Linked DNA regions of Homo sapiens. The protein of the gene in region 1 purifies or fractionates together with the protein of each later gene. This does not show direct contact. Each region holds a gene or a part of one and is shown in the gene's direction. Other genes may lie near its edges.

Evidence for each region.
Region 2: the proteins of SLC14A1 (region 1) and ATP11C purify together in Homo sapiens (affinity purification with mass spectrometry; 2 studies listed by BioGRID and IntAct, with this or other methods). This does not show direct contact.

What each region holds. Positions count from the first base shown.
Region 1 is NC_000018.10:45,719,266-45,727,435, forward strand, and holds the start of SLC14A1 (urea transporter 1), read left to right. Parts: upstream 1-4,915; 5' UTR 4,916-5,008; intron 5,009-5,684; 5' UTR 5,685-5,748; intron 5,749-7,687; exon of another isoform or gene 7,688-8,006; coding exon of another isoform or gene 8,007-8,153; exon of another isoform or gene 8,154-8,170. UniProt on the Homo sapiens protein: Mediates the transport of urea driven by a concentration gradient across the cell membrane of erythrocytes.
Region 2 is NC_000023.11:139,796,945-139,804,286, reverse strand, and holds part of ATP11C (phospholipid-transporting ATPase IG), read left to right. Parts: intron 1-1,947; coding exon 1,948-2,051; intron 2,052-4,176; coding exon 4,177-4,227; intron 4,228-5,543; coding exon 5,544-5,608; intron 5,609-5,932; coding exon 5,933-6,014; intron 6,015-6,960; coding exon 6,961-7,111; intron 7,112-7,342. UniProt on the Homo sapiens protein: Catalytic component of a P4-ATPase flippase complex which catalyzes the hydrolysis of ATP coupled to the transport of aminophospholipids, phosphatidylserines (PS) and phosphatidylethanolamines (PE), from the outer to the inner leaflet of the plasma membrane.

The sequences.
Region 1 (8,170 bases):
AGGAATTCTATAAGACATTCTCATGCTTCTCTGTCCCCTCACCCTCAACAAAGAGCATGGCAAGGACTGCAAGTCTGGAATACAACATTCCTTTGCAGTGTGTTCTGAGCCCACGGATGTTTTGGTTTGGCAAACCTTCAGACAAAAAGACAGCAGATCGATCTGGGTGCCCAGCGAGCCCCATTCGCAATGGTGATGCCAGGCCGTCCCACCTCCTCTTCCCGGCCCAATTATCAAATCGAGCTCAACTTCCTAACCTTGGGGCCAGCATCCCCTCATCTTTTACAGTAAGAGAACAATCCGATGCATGTGGTTTATCCTTAGCAGGGGCCTAGGGAAACGCGGCCATGCCAGTCCCCACCCCTCATTTTTCCAACACTTTACTCTCCTTTTCATCTGAGCCTAAAGAGATTGAGATGATTCTCCTCCTACCTCTTTCCCTATTGTTCCTCACTGGGAAATGATTTTTTCTTTTAATCTTGAAGAAACAAAAGGCGCAAGCCTGGGAGGGAGGATGATGCCCCGGGTGGTGTAGTGGATGGGATTTGGCGCTCTCACCACCATGGCCCGGATTTGATTCCCGGTCAGGGAAGCCTTTCTTCTTGCCAGGCGTGGTGGCTCATGCCTGTAATCCCAGCACTTTGGGAGGCTGAGGCAGATGGATCACTTGAGGTCAGGAGTCTGAGACCAGCCTGGCCAACATGGTGAAACCCTGTCTCTGCTAAAAATACAAAATTAGCTGGGCATGGTGGTGCATGCCTGTAATCTTAGCTACTCAGGAGGCTGAAGCAGGAGAATCGCTTGAACCCAGGAGGTGGAGGTTGCGGTGAGCTGAGATCACACCACTGCACTCCAGCCTGGGCAAAAGAGCAAGACTCTGTCTAAAAAAAAAAGAAGAAGAAGAAGAAAAAGAAACAAAAGCTGGCTTCTCGGTGTTCAAAAAAAATAAAAATGAAAATTTTTAAAAGCTCAAGGTATTGCTAGACAATATGGCTCCTTGCACAGACACACTAGCACCCCTTTTCTCAAGACATTTTAGTACCATCTTCAAGAACTTTGTTGCAATAAACACACAAATTTCTAGGACATTAATAGTGACCCCCTTAGACGTGGTGCATTTGTGCAGTGCACAACCTGCACACCCTTACGCATTGGCCCATGACACCAGAGACTACATTATGAGCCTTACACTGGTCTGATTTTAATTTAAAAGCTGGAAAGGTGACAGATGGGCATCTGATGAAAGTTGTAGGTAGGGATGGAGATTACATGAACCCTCTGCTTTGTGCAGGAGGAACATCATCTCTGGATGCTCCCAGCTATTGATCCCCGTTTACTCCTAAAATGGATGGAATAATTTCAGGACTGCATTTAAGGGGAGCTAAAAACTTAGGGACCTCAGTGCCTCCTTTCATCACCCGTCATTGTGTTCCCCCAGCAAGGGCAGGCAGTGGAGGTTTGAGTGAGACTTTTGCACTCTCTGCGCTGCCTTGATCCTTGGCTTCACTCTAGGGAATGCCTACATCAAAGGGTCCCCTCCAAGTGTCGTTCTGGGAGTTTTGGCTCTCGTCTGGTACCTTTTTATCTGACTGTTTACCAAACCAAAGAACTCAGTAGGCTCAGAACTCACTGCAAAGGAACATTCTGTTCCAGACTTGCAGTCCTTGCCACTCTCTTCGTGGGGGGGTGAGGGGACAGAAAAGCATGAGAATGTCTTGTAGAAGTCCTCAGTGAGGGCACTGCCCAATTACATAATCTTGAGGTGCCAATTATTTATAACATTAAACTGCCTATGCGTAGATCAATATCAAGCAGCAATCAAATGAAACAGTGTTATAATTTCTGATTAAAACAACACAAATTTAGAAATACCAACAAATGCAAGGTATTGTAGAAAAAATATGAAAATTGTGTTTTATCCATAGTTGCATTCTCCTTTCTCCATTTTGTCACCTAGTTCTTATGTCCTCTTACGTATATTTGATGAACTGCCTCAAAATCTTTCTGGAAAGAGAGGTCCATTAGGAATGGAGAGAGCTATTGGATCCTGACTTCATCATCCGGTACCTTCCGGCCCAGATGGGACTGTGCATCGTAAGATATATTCTAAAAAATAAGACAGTACCAGAACTGTTGCAGAGCTAGGCGGCATGATTTCATGGCCAGTGAGGAATAGAGATGTAAACTGCTTTAAGTGCACAGAAGCCCACTGCGAAATCCAAATAGATTTGGGCAGAGTATGAGGAGGGGGAGGAGAGAGAAAACATTCTAGGGGCAGAAACTCCAAGAAGAAAGTCGAAGAGGAGAGCAGCTTTATGTAGGTTCATTTGTGATTGTTCCAGGCAGAGAGATGGAAGGTGCATTCACTTGGTATGGGAACAGAGAGGGGCACCCAAAGAGGAGATGCAAGGGAAAGACCAAGGAAAGGCAATGTTAGGGCATACTCAGCAAATGACTCTCTGGAAATAATAAAGGAGCTACTGTAGAAAGAACAGAGAAAAGTTCATTGTATTGTGCAATTAGGCTGTTAAAAGCACCGAGAACACATGTATGCACGCAATGAGTGCCCAGTTGTCTACAGCAACAGGGTGGCAGCGGACCCTGGCATCTCAGAATCCTGCAGTATGAGAATTTGGCAAGCCCTGCATCAGAAAGCTACCTAGTTCACAGTTCTTGAATGAAGCAAATGGTTTCCTCTGTACTCATAACTGCACCCCTTCTGATGTCAAAGCAGGGAGAAGTTTGTCCCCTTATTCAAGCCAGGAGGAAGGTTCCATTTGGAAACCCCCAAGGTAAACCAGTGCTGATTGAGAGGGGCTGACATCAGAATGGGGGCACCTCTACATGTTCGGCACGGTGCTTTGAAGATGTCATCCCTCATCACAACTTTATAAAGGAAGAAAAGTTACCCCACTTTACACTGAGGAATCTGAGGCTCAGAAACTGTGAGTAACATGCCTAAGGTCATACAGCTTGTCAGAGAAAAGCTAGTATTCAAACTCAGGTTTATCTGACTTGGAATTCCATGTGCCTTGTGCTGCCTTGTGCATACAATATGGCAAGGCTGTAATTTGTGGCCCCCCACTTAAGGTGTGGCTTTACAGGGACCAGGAGAAAGGCCAGGGAGGGAGGGTGGGTACAGAAAGAGGTGGTTTTTCCAAGGAGGTCTGAGATTCACTACACACCTTCAGCCCTGACCAGTGCGACTGAGGCAGAAGGCTCCATGGGTGTCATGTGGAGGCAGCTTCAGGATGAGGTCCATAAATATGCATCATGGCCAAGTTGAGTGAAGGAATTAATGAAAAGCAAACATACAGGCAGAAGTTGGAAATATTGGACAGCACTGGAGTGGCTAAAAGTACAAACTTTGAGTCAGACTTTGAGCAAGTTATTTAAACTCTGAGCCTCAGATTGCTCATCTACAAAATGGGGACAATAGTATAATATAGGAATTTTGCAAATGCTCTACCATTTGTGGCAGTTATTATTCTCATTACCATCATTAGCATGATTATTTCTATCAGGGACAGTGGTCCATTTGCATAAGGAAGTCATGGAGACACTAGTATGATTCCTTTCATTCCCAAAGCAGGCCACTCACACTGTCTCCTGAAGATTCATTTTTCTCCTTCAGGGAAACCCGAGGAGCTTATTTTCTCCTTATTTTACCAGGGAAAAAATGTTGGAAGGAGATTTGCCTGAACCTGGAAACTCTTATTATGAACCTAGACCTATACACACCCTACCTCAGCTGCTCGGGAGGCACTTGGAGGAAGGATGTCCCAAGCCGGCAAGAACCCTGTGGTCTGGCGGGTGTCCAGCGGGTGGAGCCAGAGAGCTCCCAGCCATGGGCCACCTAGCTGAAGGCTGATAAGTACTATCTGCACATCCAAGCAGGCAGGAGACCCAGATAAAAGACCTATGACATCTGCATGGCTGGCTGTGGGATTACATATATATATTATATATATATTTAAAAGTATATGTATATATGTATATATATTACATATATACACACATATATATCTACACATATGTAATATATGTATATATGTATATTTATTATATGTATATATCTACATATATACATGTATGTATGTAATATAGATGTATATATGTTACATATATACACACATATACATATATACACATATATTTTTTTAAAATTCTGCACTCATAAAAGTAGATTTGAGTTAGATTTTTGCCATAACAGAACAAGCCACAAAATTGAAATTTAAAAAGAAGGGGGAAGGAGGAGATATTTTAATTCAGTTTTAGATTTCCCTGCTATAGAATGTTTGCTTCCTGACTTTTAAAGAGGCAGCAGAGTATGTCCAAGAATTCTCACCTGGGAAGACAGACATTCCAGGGAAACACTGATATTTTTGTTTTCTCCTCACTGGGAAAAAGGCAGCTGGCCTTCAGAAAACAACTTGCATGTACCTTATCTTCCCCACCCTCCCAACAGCCCCTCAGGCCCTTGCTGGAGTCTTACATCTGTGTAGAAGTTGTGCCAAGTCTAAGAAAATTTCACCCCAGGAGCAGTCGCTTAGCTTCCGAGTCCACACAGCAGCAACCTGCCCCATGGTTTTTAGTTTGACACCGTGTTGATCCTTTTCAGTTGTAAATCTTTCCAAAAATATGAGTAGGGGCCAGAGGAAACAGGAGAAGAAAAAGATGCATTTTGGTAGGATTATTGCTGGTCAAAGACCTTGGAATGCTGTGGAAACTGTGGCAAAGCAGTTGGTACTCTGTCAAGAACAGAGAGAGAGACATCGGGTACTGAAGCCAGGGGACCAGTTCCTTGGTGTTGCTTTGGCATTGATGCCTGAAGTGGGAGGAGAAAGCCGAGCCCACAAACACACAGAGCAGAGTGGGGCTCTGAGTATATAACTGTTAGGTGCCTCCCTCCAGCACCATCTCCTGAGAAGCACTCTCCCTTGTCGTGGAGGTGGGCAAATCTTTATCAGCCACTGCCTTCTGCTGCCAGGAAGCCAGCTAGAGTGGTGTAAGTACTCATCCTTATTTCTATTCATTTCCAACTATTCATCATTTGGGGCTTGTCTTCACAGTTCTAAGTTTTGCTCTTTTTCTTAATGAAGAAAATGTTTTATATCACCGGAATTGATCAGAAGTAGCAAAATCAGAGTTCTGGTAGACTAGAAAGCAATTTACCAAAGCCACAGGCTTCTTCCTGGAAGCTCAAAGGCATGCCTTTATTCGTGATTTCTGAAGCAAGGTGCATGCAGCACCTGAGCTGATGTGGAAGAGGGTTTGCAGGGAGGTGTCCACCCAATGTGCTCAATGATTCTGGGTTAATCAACACTATTAGGAGTTTCAGGTTGTGTTCTTGAAATAATAATTTGGGCTGTGTTCTTGAAATAAGTTCGAGGCGAGTGTCTACAAGACTCAAAAGAAAAAAGTGGGCCACTGGGAATGGCCCTTTCCAGTGATGGATTTATGGACTCCTCTGTGTGTGCTGTCATGCTGAAGGGAATGTTCTTGTGCACCCATCGGGAGAACAAGTCAGTCACAACTGAAGCCACGAATTTGGCAGCTTCCTTGCAGCTGCACTCTCTGGAGTCTGGAATCAAGACTTCTGGGAGTAGTGTTTTCCAAGGAGGGAAGTGTTTTAACCAGGACACAGGAATATCTGACAGCATTTTCTTTGTTTCCAATTACAGCTTTAAAGAAAACTGGGCATCTCCTGCTACTTAAAATCAAAAACTACCTAAAATAAAGATTATAGTAAGTACCAAATAAGTGTCAATGCTGAAAGTCTCTTTATTATGCTAGACCATGAGTGTTTAAATGCTTTCTTCTATATCCATATCCAACACTTCATATTATTTTTAAAAGTAATAGCTGAAGCATGGAAAATTGAAGACTTCAGGTCTCTCCAATTGCACAAATTTCTAATACATGCTGGCAATAGAATATATTTTATTTCGTGTAATAAAATAGAGGATATTAGTTGACCTGAAATCTTGATATTGCCTTGTATTAAAATGCTAAGCACTGCTTCATTTTACTAGTGATCTGGGGTATGAAAAGTGCTTTTTGACTTCTGCTGGAAAGCTCTTCAGGTGCAGCTTCCAGGATATTCTTGGGATGTTAACTTCAGCACACATAAGCCTTGCTGTAGATGTGTCAGCTTTGAGGCACAGGGAGACATTTGTTTGTCAGAGAGTAACTGCTTCTGGCAAGGGCATAGGGTGAAACTGGGGATAGCAGAGCTCTTTCTTTGTGGTTGTTCAACCCCCACCCCAAGATTAGTTCAAAGTGACCGTGAAGATAGTCTGTGCCCACCGCATCGCTAAGTCCTAGCCCTCTCTGCATACTCCAGCACACAGAAACTGCTGCTTCACTTGTTTGTTGACTTGAACCGAACCTTGGGTGGCATTAATGTGCCTGGCCCAAGACTGAAAAATTAAGAACCACCAGAGCTGACCTATTCCATAAGACCCAGTCTGCCTGCCACGTACTGAGTGAATCTGGATGATGCCCACTCTGATCCTTGGTTTTCTCTTCTATAAAATGAAGGCTTGAACTACGTGGTCTCTAAAATCCTACCTAGCTCTCAAATTTCTCTTGGTTCTAGGAAAATATTGATGTTGAGCTCAAGGAAGGGGTTCTCCAAGGTGTGTGATTTTGGTGGTAGAGGAAAGGCCGGTGCCAGGCAGGGGCAGAAGGAGACGCTGTCTACACTGAGAAAATGTGACAACCCCTGCTTGTCTCTTTTTTCATTCTTCATTGTTTCTTATTTCTTTGTTTTTAGCTTTATATAACATGAGAGCCCTACCACTGGGTTTCTTAACCATTTGTTCTTTATCAAATAAAAATATTCATAATGCAACATGCAGGCACATCAGTGTGGTACAGAACTAGCCAGCTAGTTTACTATAGGTAAATATACACACATGCATGCACACACACAATTTTTACCTGAGACATGTCAGAAGTGTTTCCTAAAATTGTGGATTTTTCTGAGTCATTCTGGTAAAGGGTAGGTTTTCAGGTTTTAGGCCAAGCCAGAAGAAGAAAGTAAAAACAGAATAAACAACAGGGGGAGAAAAAGAGAAATACCACACACACAACTGGAACTTCTGGTAAAAGAGTGATATTCTTGGATGCAATGGAAGTTTTAAAAAGGAAAAAGAAAATTTATAAAAAGCTGCCACATTTGTGGAATTCAACTAAAAACTGTTTATTATTAACAAAGTGATGTTCAAAATTTAAGAGTTCTTGGCCTGGCATGATGACTTATGCCTGTAATCCCAGTGTTTTGGGAGGCTAAGGTGGGAGGATCACTTGAGGCCAGGAATTCAAAACCAGCCTGGACAATACAATGAGACTTTGTCTCTAAAAAAAAATAAAATAAATTAAAATAAACACAGCTGGATGTGGTGGCACAGGAAAAAAAAATACCATTTAGGAGTCTCTTAAAGGCAGCTTGTGAATGCTTACAAAGCGTGGCTAGTATCTTATTACAGAAAACAGAGCCCACATCATGCATCCTTCTTCTCACATTTCATAAACAAGGCCAAGGGAAACTGCTGTGGGGCAACCTGTTGCTTTGGTGTTGGTCCCCAAGATGCAGCCCTCACAATCTGCCCCCAAACGTGTCAGAACATGAACCCCCTCCTCCCCCTCTGGAAGAAGCAACCTCAGATCCAACAGCAGAGACACGCAGCAGAACAAAATCTGGGCATTGGTCCCTGTGTAGGATGGCTTCCCGTTATTTTTTTTTTAAGCAAAGTAAATGAACATCAAATTTCCATAGTCAGCTGCTGTCTTTCTGCCCACTGAGAGCTCTTTGGTGAAGGCAAAGTCCTCCTTCTTCATTAGCGGTCTCCCATGTGGGGCCACATCTTCCCTCACCAGGAACCCAGTGGGCGCGCTCCAGCCCCCCTCAGCTTGCCTTTTGCGTGGTCATTAGAGCTAGGGCACACGTCATGCTGATTCACATATTTTTGCCCTTTGTCATGTATTGAGAAAAAGTAAGGATGAATGGACGGTCTTTGATTGGCGGCGCTGGTGACGCCCGTCATGGTCCTGTTTGGAAGGACCCTTTTGGAACTAAAGCTGGTGACGCAGCGCGCAGAGGCATCGCCCGGCTAAGCTTGGCCCTGGCAGATGGGTCGCAGGAACAGGTATGCTTCCTTCGTGC
Region 2 (7,342 bases), on another chromosome or scaffold:
GGGTGGTAATTACGTGTGGAAAAACTGAGCCCCAAGTAAAAGCTACCACAATTTTTATAGCACTGCTTGAATTTAATATTGACACAGCCTATTTAATATTTAGACTCTAAAATGGGAGTAATCATAGGCTTAAACTGTGTGACTATACAAATAACTTCATGTATGCTAACCTTACAATTTGATCTATTTTTTTCTAAAATGTATATTTTCATTAAAAATGTATATTCTTGGGATGTAGGAAACCCAACCTGGAGTAATTTGATTGCTATTTAAAAATAATACTTAGGGCTGGGTGCGGTGGCTCACGCCTGTAATCCTAGCACTTTGGGAGGCTGAGGTAGACGGATCATTTGAGTTCAGCAGTTCGAAACCAGCCTGGCCAACATGGTGAAACCCTGTCTCTACTAAAAATACAAAAAAATTAGCCGGGCATAGTGGTGGGCGCCTGTAATTCCAGCTACTCGGGAGGCTGAGGCAATAGAATTGCTTGAGCCCGGGAGATGGAGGTTGCAGTGAGCCAAGATCACGCCACTGCACTCCAGCCTAGGTGACAGGGTGAGTCTCCATCTCAAAAAAAAAAAAAAAAAAAAAAAAAAAAAAAGATAGGGTGTAGTTTGGAAAATGTTTGCTTTATAAGTAAGTTATAAAGCAACATTTTATGTACATATAACAAATTATAACTCATTTATAATTGCAAGTGACTTAAAGTAAATTTGGCCAAATGGGGGTAACTTATTTCCCTCATACACTTTCTGGCACAGTCGGTTTTCTTGGCCATGGTCCAGAGCTCCACAGGGCATGAAGATGTATCCTCTCTATGCTGCCTTTAAGGAGGGTTACTCATGTGGCTCACCTCTGGGTATGTCCTTGGAGGGCTCCTCTGTTTGTTTATTCCATCTGGAGTTGAGGACTACGACTCAGTATGTAAAAAAGAACCTTTACCTGTTGGATGACTAATTCTGTATTTCAAAAGCATGGTAATGACCTGCTTTTAACCTTTTCAAAAACAAAGTTATAATTTAGGGAATGTCAAGATATAAATCAAGAAATCTACATAAAGATTTCCTGATAGTGAAAAAGTTGTTTGGAGTAAGAAAACTTTCAGATAGTTTCTTTTTTCAGTTAAGTTGTTCTGATCAAATCAGCTAAAAGTACAGAGGTTTTCAAAATCAGGAGATAGTTTTAAATATAGTTCAGACATTGCCGTAATATTTCCCCCAAGATGACGACAACAGCTTTCCCTTCTGCCTAAGTGGTGCGCTCTTTGAGTCTGCTTTAACCCTTGTTTGATGATTTATAAGTGGGTTCATTGGCGCCTGCCTTGAGTTCTGGATGAATCAAGTGCATAATATACACTAGTAGAATATTCTAATTATCTGACTAATGCAAGACACGTCATCTCCCTGCCCCTTGTACAAAATGTATCCATATTGAACATTTTCAAGATCATTAATTAAGCTATTTGTGTAATGGAACTATTAATGATTTTTTTCTTGCTGTTGGCAAAATTTTAGCATTTTTGTGACCAAAAAGGTTATGTTCAATTCATATGTGTATATCTCCATTGCCATACACTATAGTGAGCAAAATAATAAGTCTCAGTTCTGTAAATAGGAAAAAAAATAAATGTATTAACTTTTTCACGTGGTTTTAGTTAATTATATGCATGTTGTGAATAGAATTCTCTCAGCTGTCCATGTCAAGAAGAGCTTTTAGGTTTTTAATTGTCTTTGAAACCCTCCTTGCGGCAGGTTATCTTTCTAATTATTTGTAATATATTTTCATAATAATACCATAAAACTTATTAGTGGGAAATGTTAATATTTGTTTATTCTGCCAAAGCCTCTTACTAAAACATAAACTAAATTTGTTTCTGAAATCAGTTGGGTGTATGATTATGAAAAGAAAGTTTTTTTGGTTTTCACTTTTTCTTCTGCTTTCAACTAGACACATTATGCAGTACGTGATACCATTGCACTGTGTACAGCAGAATCCATCGATACCCTCCGAGCAGCAATTGAATGTGAACAGCCTCAACCTGACCTCTACAAGTAAGAATCACCTGGTTTCATTTTACTTCTGTTTGTTGGCTCTGCTTCTCTTTGCTAATAGTATTGCAAAAGAAACACCCACCACTTACCAGCCTACTCTCATTTGTGTTTTTATGGGCGATTCCTTCCTTCTGGCAGAAAAATGAATCAAATCAGCCTTGTTCACTATCAACCCAGAATAAATCATTGTGGGCCCAGGTATCTTATGATTTTTCTTTTATTTTTATTACTTGTAAACATGGCCATATATCAAAATTTTAGATTATGTTACCCTGTAAGGCTGATCTATCAGACTGATGCAGTAACCAGTTAATTAAATAAAAAACAAATCCTTTTACATGCCATCTAACATTAAAGAGAGAAGGGGGATATCCTCTTCATGCAATTAGTAGGTTCTATCCTTTCTTAGAATGATCATGATGCACTAAAGATTGCAAATAGGCTCTTTCTTGTCCACAGTAAACAGTTAAGGGATGAGTACAATGGTGTAATTTCCTCTATTTTACTATACTTAGGCTCTCTGGAGTAGGTTTGCTGATTATTAGTCATTGTGGGTTGTCAAAAATTGGCGTTTGATTTCAAGACTGGTTAGTTGGGTTGATTAGAGCATAGTACTAATCAGGGTAGTGTAACAGGTTTTATCCCCACGTGGGCTAATTAATTTTATCCTATTCTACCGTTGCAGATGGCATCCATTACCCATCTTGTTAATGCATGCTGTTAGTCATAATGAGTGACCAAGTGGTTGGATGTGGTTTACACTAACACCTAGTAGTGGAAAAACAAAGTATTCATTCTACTTCAAGAACAATGACCTCCCTCCTTCTCATCACTTTTTCTTTCCTCTTTCCCTTCCTCTTCCGTATCCACCTTGATGATAGGAACTAGGGCCAAAAAGTGTAACAGTTATTCTCTACCTTCAAGGGACTCACTGTGAGCAAGAGATGAAGTAATAAAGCTAAGCTTATACAAGGTGATAATAGAGGTGAGTGTAAGGTCTATGGAATCACAGAAAAGGGAGTAACTTATTCTGCCTGAGCTAGAGAACAATATCTATACCCTTGCATATTTATAGGGAAATCCCCACATTTTTCAGTTGCTTTAAGTATGAAGGAGAATGATAGGACAGGGAAGGTTATTCCTTATTTCCTTAGACGATTGAATTCCTTGCTGTGTGACTTCGGAATACCTTGTACTTCTATCACTCTAGTGGTAAGCACTTGCGTCGTAATTGCCTATTTACTTTTATAGGGCAAGGAGCCATTTCTTTTTTGCTTATTAGTACATCTTCAGCACTTAGTATAGCACTGGCACAATTAATATATGATGAATGAATGAGCAAGCCTTCATATTTTGTGTATATGAGTAATATATATTTCTATTTTCTGGGGAAAATGCTGTTTACGATGCAGATTATAAAACACTGATGTTAACGAGGGATTAGGTATTTTTACCTTATTTTGCAGAAATACAGGTTACCATACACCTATTATATTAAGTGATTGGGTCAAGCTCAGTATTGAGATCAACTACAAGTCACAGGCTGGACATTTCCAAGATGGCATTCAAGTGTTCACTGTCTAAGACTAGTACTATGGTTTAAAGAGTGGTTTCAGGACCAGCAGCAGCAGCATTACTGGGGAACCTGAATCAGAAGCTCAGGGATGGGACCTAGAAATCTGTGGTTTAATTAGCGCTCCAGTGATTCTGATGCACACTCAAGTGTAAGAACTACTGAACTAGCGGTTTTGAAAATTGTATTTTAGCACCAGAAACCTTTCTTCACATGATCCAAGATAGAAGTTACGTTATTTATATAAACTTATAAAAGAGAGAGGTGTTGTGTGCATGCATGATGTTAAACAGAACTTGAAAATCAATTGAGAACCTTTGTTTCTGCTCCTATAATCCCATCATGTTATTTAAAAATTATATGAAAATGTTATACACCTTATCAATTCAACATAACTTTTTTTCCCCCAGAAATATAATAGGCTTTTGTAGTTCATTCACAGTTTTATCTATCTCTGTTTTATTATTTGTATTTTCATTCATTCTCATATTTCTGGTACATGGATTTCACCTGGATGTAGAAAACACATTTGCAATTTTGTTCTTTTTACAGATTTGTTGGGCGAATCAATATCTACAGTAATAGTCTTGAGGCTGTTGCCAGGTAAGTTTGCTGTTTCTTTAATTTGTCCTTTGGTTGGGGGGGGGGGTCTATTTTTCTGTTAAATCAACTAAAATAGCCAAATACCTTTCTATTATAGAAAGGAATATAGGCCGGGTGCGGTAGCTCACGCCTGTAATCCCAGCACTTTGGGAGGCTGAGGTGGGTGGATCACCTGAGGTCAGGAGTTTGAAGCCAGCCTGGCCAACGGGGTGAAACCCAATCTCTATTAAAAATACAAATTTAGCTGGGCGTGGTGGCACACATCTGTAATCCCAACTACTCAGGAGGCTGAGGCAGGAGAATCTCTTGAACCCGGGAGGCGAAGGTCGCAGTGAGCCAAGATTGAGCCATTGCACTGTACCCTGGGCAACAAGAGCAAGACTCCATCTCAAAAAAAAAAAAAAAAAAAAAAAAAGGAATATAAAGGTGAATAAGCAACTAACCTTGTGATTGGTAGAGTTGTGGTGATAGGGTCTCTGTGTTGTGGGGAGGGGGCTGTTAGAAGTAATGCTTATGGTTTCCAAAATAGCAGAGCTCCAGACATTTTGGATTATATTCCCAAACCTGTTCTAGCCATGTTATTTATTATCCTCGGTTGTGAAGTGGCTGACAACATTGGAATTATAACTGGAGAACAGTGGGAGAGTAATTGAGAAAGTAAGCAGTGGGTAAAATGCTGGAAGAACTACCTGGACTTACGTAAAATGAAAGGCTTCATTAAAACGAATTGTTTTATGTATACGAATTGTATGTATCAGCCTTCATACAATTTATCAAGCAGTTCATACAAAAAGGGATGCTTTCTTTCCTCTTCTATCATCATATTAATTACCGCAACTTTTCCACTTGGCCTTTACAGCCACACTCAAAAAGTTAAAGAAATACAGGGTCCCCAGTGATCCCCCAAAAGGAGGGTTTATTCTCTCCAAATATGTCAGTATATTTTTCCCACCTTGACGTTTGCATTCCCTGTCTTTTATTGATGGCTGTCTGCTTTTGTGTCTTGCGATCTGCTGCTCTGTTCTGTTCTCGTCTTGCTATCCATGATTCATAATCCTTTTATCCCCCCCCATGTATTTTTTTTGCCTATGTGTGTTGCTGGCTACTCCCGTACTGTGCTTCCATCTGTGCTGTACCCTCAAGTAACTTCAGAGTGAAGGACCTTTCAGCTTGTCCTGGGGAGTAAGCATATGGTATAAGTAGACAGATAACATTCTGAACCCCTTGGAGATAGGTGTGTGTCAGGGCAAAATCTGTCCCCAGAGTTGTTGATGCTATTGGCTTGTTTGGATAAGCTGTGTTCATTTTTTATTTAGGTCTTTGGGACCTGAAAATCTCTTGCTGAAAGGAGCTACGCTAAAAAATACCGAGAAGATATATGGTGAACAATTTTTAAGATACACCTATCAAAAAATATGCTTTGTAAAGGCTGTGAATAAATAGTGCATATTAAAAAGTAAACATGGCAGGTTTGCCATTTAATTTAAACCTACATTTAGGTGTTGGGAATTTATAACGTGGTAAACTAAGACGAAATATGACAAATACTATATATAATTAAAATTATCCTATAAATGATATACAACTGGTGAGTGGAAGAGGGCCTAGATTTCCCACTTTTATAGACTTAAAAATTCATAGAGCCAGCTGGGTGAGGAGTTGGTTGACAAGTTCTTAGTTTTTATTATATTCTGTAATTTCTTAGGAGTTGCTGTTTACACTGGAATGGAAACCAAAATGGCTTTGAACTACCAAGGGAAATCTCAGAAACGTTCTGCTGTTGAAAAGTTAGTATGCGCCACAATTTATTTAGTCATTATTGATTAAAATAGTTACTTTCTTGGTAATTCCAAGTAACAAGCATAACAAAAAACAACATCAATTATAATAGCAACTACAATTTTAAGCACTTGTTTATGTACCAGAAACTGTGCTCAATGATTTGTATGTCTGATTTGGTTTAGTCCTCTGAAGAACACTGTGAAGTAATTCATGTTAACCTCTCCACTTTACAGATGAGGAAATGGTCTTGGAGATGGTATGTGACTTACCTAAGCTCACATAGCTATTAAAGGGCAGAGTTTACTTGAACTGTAAATTCATTCCTTTTTGCTAGTGGAGTTAATGGTTTGGAGTCCTTTAGTTGCTATATGCAAGTTGGTTCTATAATATAGATAATAGTCTCCTGGCACCTATTGAAGCAGTGCCTCGTAGATCCTCAAGCCAGTTGCCACTGCTATAGACCTCACCCTGTATTTGGCATGGATAACCAGTATATCACTGGCACCCTTTCCATAGCTCCACTTTTAAACTGAAAGAACCTACACCGAGCTTGAGGATTTCACATTGCTACCGTGCCCTCTACCCCAAACATTTAGGATTCAGGGAAATGGAGACAAGATACTCTTTCTATAAGGGTTGAGTAAGTAATGGTGTGTGTATGTGTGCATGTGTGTACCTCTCCTGTCACTTTACAGGAACCTTAATAAGGTGTGTTCAGCTAGTCAGCCATTGCACTTGGGGGAGCATTGGTGGTCAATAAACAGTTCATGGCCAGCTTTTCCATTTTGCCACTTGAAAGTAATGCTGCAGCTATGATAACTGAGGTTAATACACAAAGGCTTGTGCTGTAGTTACGCGTCGTACACAGAAAAAGCTTTAGATGACTCAGTAGTTTAATTCATATCTGACTGATGTCTTTGGTTTTAAAATCCATGCTATCTTATTTTTCAGATCTATTAATGCTTTCCTGATTGTATATTTATTTATCTTACTGACCAAAGCTGCAGTATGCACTACTCTAAAGTATGTTTGGCAAAGTACCCCATACAATGATGAACCTTGGTATAACCAAAAGACTCAGAAAGAGCGAGAGACCTTGAAGGTAATTTGTTTTCTGCTGAAAATTGAAACTATTTTTTGTGACTGAGCCAACCTTCACTGAAATGCTGCTCAGGGAAACGGCACCTTTTGTTAGCTTCTGAATTTTCTCTCGATTACATGGTGGCTCTAAGCCAATAAATATTTAAGAAGATTTATTGTAAAAGAAAGAAAAAGAAAAACAAAGTTTTTTTTGTAAAAAAAACTTTTATTTTCTTTATTGTAAAAGAAAGAA